Homo sapiens: one gene and its partners. The protein of the gene in region 3 purifies or fractionates together with the protein of the main gene of each other region. This does not show direct contact. Each region holds a gene or a part of one and is shown on either strand. Other genes may lie near its edges.

Region 1 (4,236 bases), on a different chromosome or scaffold from region 3:
TTAATCTAGCATCCAGTCAAAGACTATTCATTGCATTCAGTTGTCATGATAAGTTTTATTTTTAATGATCATATTAATGTAGGATTTATATATATAAAAAAAACTAGTCCAAATGACAGAAGATACTTAACAAATGTGGTTTTGCCTTTTTCTTTTTTTTTTTTTTTTTTTTTTTTTTGAGACAGGGTCTCAGTCGCCTGGGCTGGAGTGCAGTAGGGTGAACACAGCTCACTATAGCCTTGACCTCCTTGGCTTAAGCAATCCTCCCACCACGAACGGCTAATTTTTTTACATTTTGTAGAGACGAGGTCTCACTGTGTTGTCCACGCTGGTCTCGAACTCCTGGGCTCAAGTAGTCCTCCTGCCTTGGACTCCCAAGTGCTGGAATTACAGTCATGAGCCCCACCGCACTCAGCCTTTGACTGTTTTTAATTTTATTTTTGAGGCAGGGTCTCACTCTGTTGCCCAGGCTGGAGTACAGTGGTGCAGTCATAGCTCATTGCAACCTTGAACTTCAGGCTCAAGAGATCCTTTTGCCTTACTCAGCCTCCCAAGTAGCTGGGACTACAGGCATGTGCCACCATGCCCAGCTAATTTTCATTTTAATTTTTTGTAGAGACGGAGTTTTGCTATGATGCCCGGGCTGATCTTGAACTCCTGGCTTCAAGTGATCCTTCTGCCTTGGCCTCCCAAAGTGCTAGCATTATAGGCATGAGTCACTGTGCCTGGCCTTGAATATTTTTACATTGCGTTGTCACAAGTGAGCTGTGTCATTTTGGTATATTTTAATTAAAAGGCAAGGTTTCTACTTTGATATTATTTAAATCCACACCCTTGTATCTTACATCAAAATTTAAGAATCAGTCAGCTTTAAATTATTTGCTTTTATTCTTCTCTAGGAGCTGCTGTTTTGAGGATTCCTATTCTGTATGGGGAAGTTGAAAAGCTCGAAGAAAGTGCTGTGACTGTTATGTTTGATAAAGTGCAGTTCAGCAACAAGTCAGCAAACATGGATCACTGGCAGCAGAGGTTCCCCACACATGTCAAAGATGTGGCCACTGTGTGCCGGCAGCTAGCAGAGAAGAGAATGCTGGTAAGAAGGATTCCTGAGTCCTGTCTTAGCGAAGGTCCGCTTTGTCTTTTCCATGCTTGAACTTTCACAGCTGTACTTGGAGTGTTACTGAGTGAAAGCCAAAAGTGCTTTTTTAAAACTAGGAGACCAAACAAAAGTAGTTTACATATACACTGTATTCATGAAGAATAAAAATATTATGCTCTTCTGTTTGAATTTATTTCTTATGTACTATAGATCCCATCATTTCTTTTATTGCAAAGTGTTAGGAAACTTCAAAATAATCATCTAAGGTCTTTTAAGAAGATACTCTTTGGGGGCTGGGCGTGATGGCTCACACCTGTAATCCCAGCACATTTGAAAAAGTTGGTATTAAATATAATATCCATACAAAGAAAGATGAGACTGATTTAGTTTAGAATATTAATAGGATGACCACAGTTTTTTAATATATGAGAATTATATTTTGTAATATATAACATGACAATATTTAAGAAAGTTTAGCTCAACTTGAAAAATGGTTCTATTAAGTTTTTGTTGTAGCTTGGGATAATTAAAAATACTCATTAAATTGTACTGTTTTCATAAAAATTTGTAATGCTTTTTTATATTCCCACTAATTAAGTAAAATTGGAGCCTTTTTTTGATTTTAAAAATTCTTAAGGTTTAAATTCTAGAAATTGCTCTTTTAAGTGTTTTGCTAAGAGTATTAGTAGGAATTTGATTTTAGATATCTTGTGGAGACCTTTCCAGAAAAAGAGGGTTGCCTTTTAGTTCCTGGACCTTATTTTAAGTAAGCTTTTTGGTCAAACCTATTCTACTCAGCTCAAAAAGTTGAAACTATTGAATTTATTGTGTCATCGTTCTTAGGATCCATCAATTAAGGGAACCTTTCACTGGTCTGGCAATGAACAGATGACTAAGTATGAAATGGCATGTGCAATTGCAGATGCCTTCAACCTCCCCAGCAGTCACTTAAGACCTGTAAGTACATGGCTGTAAAAACCTTTAGATCCATTGCTATGGTATATATTATTGCTGTGTTGGGTAACTTCATTTCTCAGTACTAATCAAAGTGAACTTTGCTTGTATGCTGGCTGTTCATAGTGCTACTTTTCTCTAAATTATCATCTGTAGAGAAGATCATGAGTATTGAAGTTTGTAGAAAATGTATTATTGTCTTGATCATGACAGGCATTTGGTTTATTTTTCCAGGGATGATCAAATCAGATTTCTTACACTAAGAGCAAAAATAAGTAGCAAATATAAAACCTCAAAATGGCCAGGCACAATGGCTCATGCCTGTAATCCCAACACTTTGGGAGGCTGACGCAGGAGGATCCCTTGAGCCCAGGAATTTGAGACTAGCCTGGGCAATGGAGGGAGATCTCATCTCTGTTTAAAAATATATACATATTTAAAAAAAGGTCAGGGGGAACAAAGCCCTCAAAATATAGCCTTTCACTTACTTTTGATTTTTTTGTGTTTATCTTTCTTTAAAGATTACTGACAGCCCTGTCCTAGGAGCACAACGTCCGAGAAATGCTCAGCTTGACTGCTCCAAATTGGAGACCTTGGGCATTGGCCAACGAACACCATTTCGAATTGGAATCAAAGAATCACTTTGGCCTTTCCTCATTGACAAGAGATGGAGACAAACGGTCTTTCATTAGTTTATTTGTGTTGGGTTCTTTTTTTTTTTTAAATGAAAAGTATAGTATGTGGCACTTTTTAAAGAACAAAGGAAATAGTTTTGTATGAGTACTTTAATTGTGACTCTTAGGATCTTTCAGGTAAATGATGCTCTTGCACTAGTGAAATTGTCTAAAGAAACTAAAGGGCAGTCATGCCCTGTTTGCAGTAATTTTTCTTTTTATCATTTTGTTTGTCCTGGCTAAACTTGGAGTTTGAGTATAGTAAATTATGATCCTTAAATATTTGAGAGTCAGGATGAAGCAGATCTGCTGTAGACTTTTCAGATGAAATTGTTCATTCTCGTAACCTCCATATTTTCAGGATTTTTGAAGCTGTTGACCTTTTCATGTTGATTATTTTAAATTGTGTGAAATAGTATAAAAATCATTGGTGTTCATTATTTGCTTTGCCTGAGCTCAGATCAAAATGTTTGAAGAAAGGAACTTTATTTTTGCAAGTTACGTACAGTTTTTATGCTTGAGATATTTCAACATGTTATGTATATTGGAACTTCTACAGCTTGATGCCTCCTGCTTTTATAGCAGTTTATGGGGAGCACTTGAAAGAGCGTGTGTACATGTATTTTTTTTCTAGGCAAACATTGAATGCAAACGTGTATTTTTTTAATATAAATATATAACTGTCCTTTTCATCCCATGTTGCCGCTAAGTGATATTTCATATGTGTGGTTATACTCATAATAATGGGCCTTGTAAGTCTTTTCACCATTCATGAATAATAATAAATATGTACTGCTGGCATGTAATGCTTAGTTTTCTTGTATTTACTTCTTTTTTTAAATGTAAGGACCAAACTTCTAAACTAATTGTTCTTTTGTTGCTTTAATTTTTAAAAATTACATTCTTCTGATGTAACATGTGATACATACAAAAGAATATAGTTTAATATGTATTGAAATAAAACACAATAAAATTAACACTTGATCCAGAATGTTAACTTACCACCCCATCCTAGAATGTTACAGTTACTGTATCTATTTGTGGGAACGGATTTGTTTTTAACTAAAAATTAATAGCTATATAATCTTGTTACATTATACAGTTGACCCTTGAACGGTGTGGGTTTGGGGTATCAACCTTGCACAGTCTAAAATCCACTATAACTCTGGACTCCCCAAATACTTAATTAGTAAAAACCTGCTGTTGACCAGAAGCCTTACTGATAAACATAGTCATTTAACATATTTCTATCTTCTGTGTATTACATACTGTATTCTTAAAGTAGCCTAGAGAAAAGAAAATATTATTAAGAAAATCTCAAGGAAGGGAAAATATATTTACTATTCATTAAGTGGAAGTAGATTATCATAAAGTTTTTTTTTTTTTTTTTTAGACAAGGTCTCGCTCTGTCGCATAGGCTGGGGTACAGTGGTGCATTCTCAGCTCACTGCAACCTCCGCCTCCTGGGTTCAAGCAATTCTCCTCCCTCAGCCACTCGAGTAGCTGGGA
Region 2 (3,500 bases), on a different chromosome or scaffold from region 3:
CAAGAAGACTGGAGGTTGGGAAGGACACAGAGAAGCCAAGACGGAGTCAGACATATAACCAGAGATGTCAACTGGGCCACAAACAGCATCTCCAAAGAGCTCCATTTGGAAGAATGTATCTGAGGTCTACCAATACTAGCCCCTTGCCACAAACAAACAAACAAAATGCCAATTTCCCACATGAAGCCAAATCAAAACCCTAGTAGCAGTGCTTATTAAACGATTTAAAAAAAAAAAATCAAACCTCACAAAGTAAGGCTGACTCCCAAGAGTCATCTAGCTTTCCTGGAGACACAGAGACACATAACAAGAATGCTGGGAAATGATCAACTACAAAGGACCATGAGAGAAATTTTGGGGGTGACAGAAATGTCTTGATTGTGGTGATGGTGACTTCAGGCATCAGTCAGAATTCCTAGGAATGTACACCTAAAATGAGCTTTACCATATGAGAATTATATCTCAATAAACCTGTCTTAAAAACAAACACAGAAGCATGCCTTCAGAGTGTTTCCCAAACACGCCCTTATGCCACCATGCTTCAGAATCTACGGGGTGACATAAAGGCTTCCAGGGCACTAGAGAGGAATGCTGTTACAGACAACACCTGTAAGAAAACGTTTTGTGTAACAAAGCTACTTACATGTATCAACTAATACTTCACATAACCTTGCCAATCAGCTAACAAACATTTTCTAAAAAGAAAACACTGAGCAATTTTTTTCCTCTAGGTCCCTGTACAAAGCAACTCTTCTCTACAATGAAAATATGTACGTGATACCTTCTGTTCTGAGCATAAGGTGACCAGGACAAATACACTAAGTCACATCATCAAGGACTTAACTTTAACCTTATAACTCTTAGAACAGTAGCCATTCAAAAAGGACCAGGAAGTTTCAAAGGCAGCACAGAGGTGGGGAACACTCCGAACTCACTTGTTTTGCCCCAAAAACAAGAGGACCTAACAAGAAATTATTAGTATTATAAAAACAACTGTTACAATGAAATAATCTGGGGAAAAGTTTAAATTGTAAAATGGCCAGTATCATGTAATTATTTCCATTTTTTTCTGACTAGGGCAAGGAGGTATTATTTTCCTCATATTACCAACCAAACTGAATTCCTTTCAAAAAAACAATTTACTTACTGTTTCTTCTCATTCATTTCCCAGGCTTCAAGTATTCGTTCTATTAATTGACATTTTTGGAAAAGCTGAAAAAAAAAAAAAGAATATTCCAGTTAATACTTCAAAGCATCAAAACTTTAAAGTGAAACAGAACTCTAGGTTAAAGAGAATAGTAGTATGCATAATCTAGCAAGCTAAATGTTACTAAGCCAAATGCAATGTGATCATCAATCTACTGCAGACACCCACAACACTACAGAGATTCAAATCAGGATCCACACCCTCCACAGAACATCTACAGGAAACTCAGTATTATAGGTAGTGCAGTTAACTACCTATAGTTAACTATAAAGGAAAGCCAGGTTTTATTAGCTGTGAAAATTCAGAACAGAAATATAAAACCTGAGCTAAATTAAAATGGAATAAAGAAAACTATGCCTTGGCAAAAATTTAACTTAGAATCCAAAGTAATGCTTGTACTTTTAAAATGTGAGCACGTCTTACTTCCAGATGAACTAACATTACTGCATTAATATTAAAAACAGGTGGGTTTTGCCCAAAGTCTGCAAGTCAGTGACAACTGCTGTAGGCTGCAATACTGGAATGTGCAGGGCTAGTTCTTCTCAGGTGTCATTTGTCTTTCCCATCAACTTGGCTGTTCCAAGCTAGCCTTTTCTACATTTTAGGTTTGCGAGTAAACCAAGTGTGGGCTAGAAATTTTAAAAGTACCATAGAACTACCAAGCAAGAAAAAATCTGAAGACTGACTTAGTAAAATTATCTCATATTTGACAGAAGAGAAAAAGAGACCCCAGGAAGACTCTCAACATCACAAAGAACTCAGTTCTCCTGACTTTCAGTCACGTATTCAGCAAAGAAACTACACTCTGGTCAGCCAAATAATAGTGCAAATGTTTTCCATAGTATTTAAATTTCTATGATTCTTCAAATCATCAAAGAATTTATATATCTTCAAACCTATTAATTTTACCAAATAAGGAGGCCACTTAGCTTTTTTCTTACAAGACTGTTCATTTAATAGTTATTTGTCCAGTACTTGATTTATATAATGATTTATATGTTAAAAGTGAAACGAACACATGATTGTCAAATATTTAGACTCTGAAATCTAACCTCAAGCCCTTTAAACCTCAATTCACATCACAGTCAAGTGGAAAACTGCTATAACCAGGAGAGAGTGGGAGAAAAACGAGACCAAATAAGCTTACATGTTTTAATAACAAATTATCACCAGTGGAGTCTTGATCGGTAATTGTGGCATTTTCTGTGTTTTCAAAAGGACTTGCAAGAATCAGTGCAATACAAATTTCCACTTGTGTATGCAAAAAGTTATTCCATGTATACTTGAAGAACATGTTCTACAAAAAAGAAAAACCATGTTTTATTCGGTTACCTCAATGTTTAAGCCAATACTTAAATACATTTACAGAACAGTGATTTAATAAAGTAAAAATGATGTGCTCTCAGTCCAAAAGGACCAATTAAAAGGAACCTGAGTTCACATTAGTACTTGCATAACCACAGTTTCATTTTCTGTGGTTTCAGTTACCCACAGTCAACCATGATCTGAAAATAGGTGAGTATAATACAGTAAGACATGCTAATCCAAGAGATGACATTCACATAACATTCATTACAGTATAGATTTATAATTGTTCTACTTTATTATTAGTTATTATTAATCTCTTCCTGTGCTTAATTTATAAATTAAACTTTGTCACAGGTATGTATAGGAAAAACACATAGTATATATAGGGTTCGATAGCTGTGGTTTCAGGCATCCAAAGGAGTCTTGGAAGGTATCCCTCATAAATAACGAGGACTAAATGGGGATGTGAAGTATTGCTTTAGAGCCTAAATGGCGTGCTATCTGCTTATCTGACATGCCAGAACTGGTATGGAATCTAGTAAAAAACCAACAACAAACATACAAAGACAAGAGTACGTTTCTCCAAGAGAAAGGGAGTATCTTTTTTCTCTTCAAAGCAACTAACACAAATAGTTAGCGTGGTAAATTTTCTATAATTTTCAAAAAAATTTATAAGAGGCCAGGCGTGGTGGCTCATGCCTGTAATCTCTGCACTCTGGGAGGCCGAGGCGGGCGGATCACGAGGTCAGGAGATCAAGACCATCCTAACACGGTGAAACCCCGTCTCTACTAAAAATACAAAAAAATCGCTGGGTGTGGTGGCGGGCGCCTGTGGCCCCAGCTACTCAGGAGGCTGAGGCAGGAGAATGGCGTGAACCCAGGAGGCGGAGCTTGCAGTGAGCCAAGATCACTGCACTCCAGCCTGGGCGACTGAGCCAGACTCCATCTCAAAAAAAAAAAAAAATTGTAAGAATTTCATTTTGAT
Region 3 (3,500 bases):
ATCATGGAAGATTAATTATTTTACGATATGGATCATTATATAGTCAGTGTTACCAAAGAGTATATGTACTATAGCCTTACTGTAGTTTTTAAAAGTACATATGAATACATATAAGAATAAACAAGGCATAAAAGATACACAACAAGCCAAGTGCAGTGGCTCACTCCTGTAATCCCAGCAGTTTGGGAGGCCGAGGCAGGCGGATCACTTGAGGTCAGGAGTTCAAAACCAGCCTGGCCAAAATGGCGAAACCCTGTCTCTATTTAAAATACAAAACATTAGTCAGGCATGGTGGCTTGAGCCTGTAATCCAGCTACTCGGGAGGCTAAGGCACGAGAATCGTTTGAACCTGGGAGGTGGAGGCTGCAGTGAGCCAAGATCGCGCCACTGCACTCCAGCCTGGGCATAGACTTTGTCTAAAAAAAAAAAAAAAAAAAAGATACACAACAGAGTTTAATTGGGCCTATCGGTGGATATGGGATTATGGGTGATGTTAGCATTTTTCTTTATTTTACTTACCTATGTTTTCTAAACCTCCTGCAATTAACATGTATTACTTTGGTAATATGGAAAAATAACAAAGGTTGTTAGACTGAAGGGTTTGTGTATAACCTAAAACCATACTGGAGGAGTTCTCAGCTCCCCCAGCTGATCTCTGAATAACTCACCAAAGGTGGAGTCTTCCCCGAGCTCCTTCCCGTATTTCAGCATACAGTCCCCCAGCAAGCCTTCCGTCTGCGGGTATCCTGTGGTCTTCACCTGCCCTCGGATCTTCGACACAGTGTTCAGCATTCCTAGCTTAGCTCTGTATGCTTAAAAACATTGTCATTTGTAATTCTTTAAAGTTACAAGGTGGAGTGACAGGTACATAGAATTTAATAAACGCAGCTGCCAAAACTGAGGTCACCTTAAACAAAATGCCAGAGACCTGAGGCCTGAAACAATTGTGTGTGAACTATTTAATTTTCTCAGGTAATTTTCTAGGTTCTTTACCAAGGTGGGTGCTAAGTGCACTGTTCCGCAGCCACGATGAACCATAGAAATGATGGTGCACATCGGCTGGGCGCAGTGGCTCACACCTGTAATCCCAACACTTTGGGAGGCCGAGGCCGGCAGATCACCTGAGGCCAGGAGTTCAAGACCAGCCTGACCAACATGGAGAAACCCTGTCTCTACTAAAAATACAAAAAATTAGCTGGGCGTGGTGGCACATGCCTGTAATCCTAGCTACTCGGGAGGCTGAGGCAGGAGAATTGCTTGAACCCGGGAGGCGGAGGTTGCAGTGAGCCAAGATCGCGCCATTGCACTCTAGCCTGGGGGACAAGAGCGAGACTTTGTCTCAAAAAAAAAAAAAAGAAAGAAAGAAAGAAAGAAAAAAAAAAAGAAATGATGGGGCACATTGCTGACTTGAAATAATAGTGACCAGGCTTTCCTGAGCACCACCCCTCGAGTGAGACCCTTTGGAAAGCTTGCAGTTGCTGACACGTGAAGTCAGACACTGACACCTGTGTGACACTGACATGCTTTTTGTTTGTTTGTTTAAATGTAAACAAAAATAGAATTGCCGAGGAGGATATTTCAAACAACCAACTGGTCATTAACACACACCACATGCGCGCGCACGCACACACACACACACTCTGCTCCCAAGGACTGATTGAGCCTAATGATTTTCAGTATTATGGCAGGCAGGTGCTGCTGTTTAGGAGGCAGAATCATAGGAGGGGACAGACCACCCCACCCCTAGTGAACACTAGCCTTGTGTGGCTGGTCCCAAGGTGCAGCTCAGCCTCTGCTCCCTAGGGAGGTGATGCGCATCACTGCGTCTTACCTTCCTTTCCTTCCTCTGACTCAGGCAATGAGTATTTACTCATTGTTGCACTGGGCCCTGTGCAACAACACACTGTGCTCATTACTGGGACTCCAGAGACAGGCTTTGCCCTCAAGGAGCTCAAAGTCTAGTTACTGGGAGGCAGAATATACAGGACATAATTATGAAAATAAAGTCCAGTGTGGTGCAGGGCAAGGGAAAGGCGGCAATATGCTGAAGAAAGATGGAAAGATGCCCTAAAAAGTACAGAGAATGGTGTCAGTAACGTGTAGAAGAGGGAATACTGTGGCATAATCAGTGGACAAGGAGTAGGCTGGTTTGACCTAAAATGCTATTAATACAGGACAAAGTGGGAGATAGCTATGGGAAAATGTGACTATGAATTGAACACCAAGCTAAGGATTTGAGATTTCATCCTGTAGGTGAGAGAGTGAATCACATACTAGTTTGTGGTATTTGAGATACTTTTAGATAGTCAAGAGATACACTTTTTTTCCTACTTTAATAATTTTGTACTATTTTTAATGTATTTTAAATCAATGCCTCCAAAACTTTAATGTGTATGTAAATAACCCAAGGATCTTGTTAAAATGTAGAGTGATTCCATCGGTCTGGGTTGAGCCTAATTCTGCATCTCCAGCAATAGAATGCACTGTGAGTAGTGACATTCCCGTGCCAGCTGTGAGTGCCACTCACATTCACCTGACATTCACAGTGCCAGCCTTTTTTGTTGTTGTTTTGAAACAACAACTGTTGCCCAGGCTGTAGTGCAGTGGTATGATCATGGCTCACTGTGGCCACAAACTCATGGGTTCAAGCGATCCTCCCACCTCAGCCTCCTGAGTAAAAATAGGACTACAGACGTGTTACCACACCTGGCTAATTTTGAAAATGTTTTGTAGACATAGAGTCTTGCTACATTGCCCAGGCTGGTCTTGAACTCTTGGCTTCAAGCAATCATCATGCCTTGGCCTCCCAAAGTGCTGGGATTACAGGCATAAGCCATTGTGCCTGGCCAGTGCCGGACTTTTGAACCTCACATTTATCCTCAAAGCATTTATCCTCCAGGTCCCCAAGCCCAAAGGCTTCACTCTCACACACTACACACACACACACACACACACACACACACACACACACACACTCTCTCTCTCTCTCTCTCTGCCCATCTTTCCCACTGTTGGAGGGGGATGTGGGATGCAGCAGGTATGTGGGTGAGAGCCATTAAACTGGATAAGAGGTTGCTAGGGCTGCCTCTTCTCTAGGAATAACCAGAGACCTCTAGCCAGTGGTGACACTTTTATTGTTGGCCAACACTTCCTTATCCCATTCAAGAGTCAGCTGGTTGAGGGTGAAGTATCTGTCTGATTTCATAGTGTACTCCAGCACCCCGAAATCCTCTAGTGCAGAGAAAGCACATATTAAATATTTGTTGACTGATATATCAGGAAAAGAAATTTGTGTGGCTGATTTCAATCACTGATGTGGCCAGGGAGGAGAAGATATATTTTTATGGTTTTCAAAGCTATTATCATCAATACAATTGTAAAGAACTTTAGACCTGCCTGGATACACCTGATAAAATTTATATTCTTAAATTTTTACTTTCTCAATTTTCAAATGGTTAGGTTTGTGCTGATTCCTACAGTCAAGGGAATCACAGGAACTC
Region 4 (3,500 bases), on a different chromosome or scaffold from region 3:
AGTTATAGATGAGGTGGTCCAAATGGAAGATCAGGGCAAGTGCGGGAGTTTCCGAGGAGGCTCAGGCCCGACGGACAGCAGAAAGGACAGAGGTTCATCCTGGGGCTGCAGGTCACTGGGCAGAGAGGCCTCCAGGGACCTGGGCGCACAGGCATCTATGCCTGCAGTGAAGCCAGGGGTGCAGAGCCCAGGTCCCCAGCAGGCAGTGAGGGAGGTGCTGGCCCCTCAGACATCAGGCCCTTGCGGCCCACGTGGGGTCCCTTCTGGCAGGTGGAGGAGCCCACGTGGGCTCTGGAAAACACCAGTCTCATCCCGTCTCCCTCTACCTGGCTGGCCCTCCACAGTGACCCTCCGTGCTTTGTCTGGCATTTTTTTTATCTGCGTGCTAATCTCTCTCTCTTTTTCTCAGAGTTTTGCTCTGTCGCCCAGGCTGGAGTGCAGCGGCGTGATCTCAGCTCACTGCAACCTCCACCTCCTGGGTTCAAGTGATTCTCCTGCCTCAGCCTCCCGGGCAGCTGGGATTACAGGCACGAGCCACCATGCCCGATTAATTTTTGTATTTTTGTAGAGACAGGGTTCCACCATCTTGGCCAGGCTGGTCTGGAAGTCCTGACTTCGTGATCCACCTGCCTCGGCCTCCCGAAGTGCTGGGGTGACAGGCGTGAGCCAACATGCCCGGCCCGTTAGCAAGCTGAGGGTCCCTTGAGCACAAAGACTCCCAAGGGCCCACAGTACTGGCACCTGCGTGACCCCGAGTGAGTGAATACATGCTCCAGATGGTGACCCCTGCTGGGGAACACAGACCCTGGGGGTGGCTCAAGGTAGTGAGATGGGGTCCCCCGGTCCTTCCGCAGCCCCTCATCGCACTCTGTACCCTTTGCTGCTTTTGTCCAGAGAAGGCAGGTGATGTCGTGGTGAGCGGTGAGAGAAACGGAGCCTATGTGCAGGTGTGCGTGCCCCTTGTGGGTTCTTGTCACATGTCCCTTCCCATCACGGATGAGCAGAGACGCCCCTGCCCCACCAGGAAGGAGCCTCCGTATTTCTGGACGGTGAAAAGAGGTGTCCTGCTCAGAGGGGAGGAGCCTTCCTGGGGAATGATGTAGCTGGAAAGTCACTGGGGGTGGTCGGGACCCACCCGAGGGTATCGAGACCACAAAAATCAGTGCACGCTCCGCCTTCTGTGGGAAGTCTCAGTGTCGGTGAGGGACCGGTGGCCCCCAGGAACCCCATGTTTCTCTCTGCAGGGTCAGCTGTGCTTCTGTGACTAGGGGTTGAGGGGTGCATCCCACCTGGGTGGTGGAGGTGTCGGGAAAGGCCCTGAGTTGGATGAACACGGACTTCCCACCAATTGCTGGCTGGAAACCCTCCTCGGGGGAGGAGGAGCAGGAAGAGGCCTCGTGGTTCCAGAAATTCCAGGAAGGCCTTTCCGGAGCTGGGGCCCAGGCTGTCTTTGAGGATCCTGGGGTGGAGGAGACGGAGAGGTCTGAGGCATGGGGATGGGCTGCAGGGGCCACTGCTCTCTCCCATCGACGCCATCAGCCCCAGGTCCTAGAACGGAACAGGCTGCCTGTGTGGGCCCCCGGGCCTGGACAGGACCCTGCCGTCTAGGGGCCGGCTCTGCCACAGCTACCAGTGGGGTGGGTGATGTGGGGGCTGGACAGGCACTCCAAGCTCCCCCTCTCCACTGCCCTGGCCACACCAACTGCCAGGGCAGCCCATGCTCACCAGCAGAAGGAAGTCCCCTTGGGCGAGAGGGCGGGAAGCCCCAGTGGCCTCTGGGTGGCATCTGGGTCCAGGGAGCGTCCAGGGGGTTGTGTGCCCTGACCTGGTGCCAACCTGGGCAGCAGGCTCTCGGGGGGGGGGTGGGCTGGGTAGGACTTCAGGGATGGTGGGGAAGGAAGAGACCAGGGTACTTGGTGGCTGCACACGGGCCCTCGAGTGCCCCGGGAGCTCAGGAAGACACTCTGACCTAGGCAGGTCTGGACCAAAGCTCTGAACTCATCCCACTTCCTATCCCGAAGATCTAGACCACAATACCAGGCTGCTTGGGGCAGGGCCAAGGGGAGGCTCGAGTGAGCTGAAAGGGCCCTGCTGATGACCCAGGGACAGGGTCTGGGGACACCTGAGCCAGCAGGGAGGCGTTCGGCCTTCAGCTGTGAGTGCCGGGCAGCCTCTGGGAGGAAGGAGCTCCTGGAATCTAGAACACCCTCTCCAGCTGCCTTCCAAGGTAGGAAGGCTCTGCATGAACAAATACTCCAAGGTTGGGGAGCGCATGGCCTCTGAGGAGGCCCAGGTCTTTGTTCTTCGTGGGGCACCACGCCGATGCCGTAACTTCTGCCTGCAGCCCTGCCCTGGGTGCAGGTCATGGAGGATGACTCTCTCCTCTGGGTCCCTGGATGAAAGATCTGCAGACCATGACCCTGAACCCTCTGCCAGACCTGAGAGACCCCAGCCTGAAGAAAGGAAGGTCAAGGCCGTCTGTCCATCCTCTGGGCTCTGGGTGCTTCCCACCTGGACACGCTTCCTGGGAGGCTCTGGAGGCTAATAACTGGGTGGTGAGACTCCCATCCTCCTGGTTGGAGAGTACTTCATTGGATGCAGCATTCACCTTTTCAGCAGCTGCTGCTCACTCGGGGATTCTCTCCATGGTCTGTGGCCTCTCACGGGCAAGCCAGACCCAAGCCAGCCTCTGTTTCTGACTTTCCTGTCCTTGCGTGGCAGGAACTAGGGGACAGGGCTGGGTCCTTTCTTCTTTGTAGCCTCAGTGCCAATTCAGTGCCTGGAACACGGCAGGTGCTCAGCAAATGTCTGCCGAGTGAAGGAAGACTTTATGTGTGTCCTGGTAGGCTGTGTCTGGTGGCCCCAGGTGTCCAGGAGGCATCTGGCCTCGGTTCTGTTGTTCAGTTAGAGTGCTAGGTCCGTCCCCAAGCTGTGTTATCTGTGTGTCTGACCCTCCTGCTTCTGGTTTTCTTCTGGGACGAACCCCTGAGGCTCACCATGAGAGACCCCCTCGTCTGTCCATAAGGTGGCTGTCAGAGGTTTGAGCAGATAAGCTGTGTCTACTGGAGTCAGTCAGAAGGAGACCCAGCCTGCTCTAGCGTGACTTGTTTATGGTGAACCCGGCTTGGCTCCTGGGATCATCTCTGTCTTTTCTAAGCACACACAGGGCGTGGGTTTGATGAATAAGAACCAGAGCAGACAGGGAAGCTTGGCCCCTGCTTCTACCACCCTGGGGCCTGGCCTTTTCCATGTGTGTCCTGTGGCTGTAGGAACCCTGGGTATCAGGATGCTGGGGGCGCTGGAAAGGCTGATGGTCTCGGGGCAGATTCGGGCTGGGCGGGGCTCCAAGCAGGGAGGAAAGGCACCGCCTGGGTGCCAGATGAGGGTCGGGTCCAGCCCAGGAGGTGGCTGGGTGGGCTCTCTCGGCAGAGGGCCTGGGTGACGCTGGAGGAAGCCCCTGCCCACACATGCACCGGGGGAAGGCTCCTATCTGCGTCCAC

Evidence for each region. The genes of interacting proteins can lie anywhere in the genome.
Region 1: the proteins of SH3GL3 (region 3) and MAT2B purify together in Homo sapiens (affinity purification with mass spectrometry; one large-scale study listed by BioGRID and IntAct). This does not show direct contact.
Region 2: the proteins of SH3GL3 (region 3) and PPP6R3 purify together in Homo sapiens (affinity purification with mass spectrometry; one large-scale study listed by BioGRID and IntAct). This does not show direct contact.
Region 4: the proteins of SH3GL3 (region 3) and RBFOX3 purify together in Homo sapiens (affinity purification with mass spectrometry; one large-scale study listed by BioGRID and IntAct). This does not show direct contact.

Annotation. Positions count from the first base shown.
Region 1 is NC_000005.10:163,515,619-163,519,854, forward strand, and holds the end of MAT2B (methionine adenosyltransferase 2 subunit beta), read left to right. Parts: intron 1-899; coding exon 900-1,093; intron 1,094-1,942; coding exon 1,943-2,056; intron 2,057-2,574; coding exon 2,575-2,745; 3' UTR 2,746-3,736; downstream 3,737-4,236.
Region 2 is NC_000011.10:68,568,752-68,572,251, reverse strand, and holds part of PPP6R3 (serine/threonine-protein phosphatase 6 regulatory subunit 3), read right to left. Parts: intron 2,505-3,500; coding exon 2,355-2,504; intron 1,213-2,354; coding exon 1,148-1,212; intron 1-1,147.
Region 3 is NC_000015.10:83,565,841-83,569,340, reverse strand, and holds part of SH3GL3 (endophilin-A3), read right to left. Parts: intron 813-3,500; coding exon 669-812; intron 1-668. UniProt on the Homo sapiens protein: Implicated in endocytosis. May recruit other proteins to membranes with high curvature.
Region 4 is NC_000017.11:79,111,052-79,114,551, forward strand, and holds part of RBFOX3 (RNA binding protein fox-1 homolog 3), read right to left. Parts: intron 1-3,500. UniProt on the Homo sapiens protein: Pre-mRNA alternative splicing regulator. Regulates alternative splicing of RBFOX2 to enhance the production of mRNA species that are targeted for nonsense-mediated decay (NMD).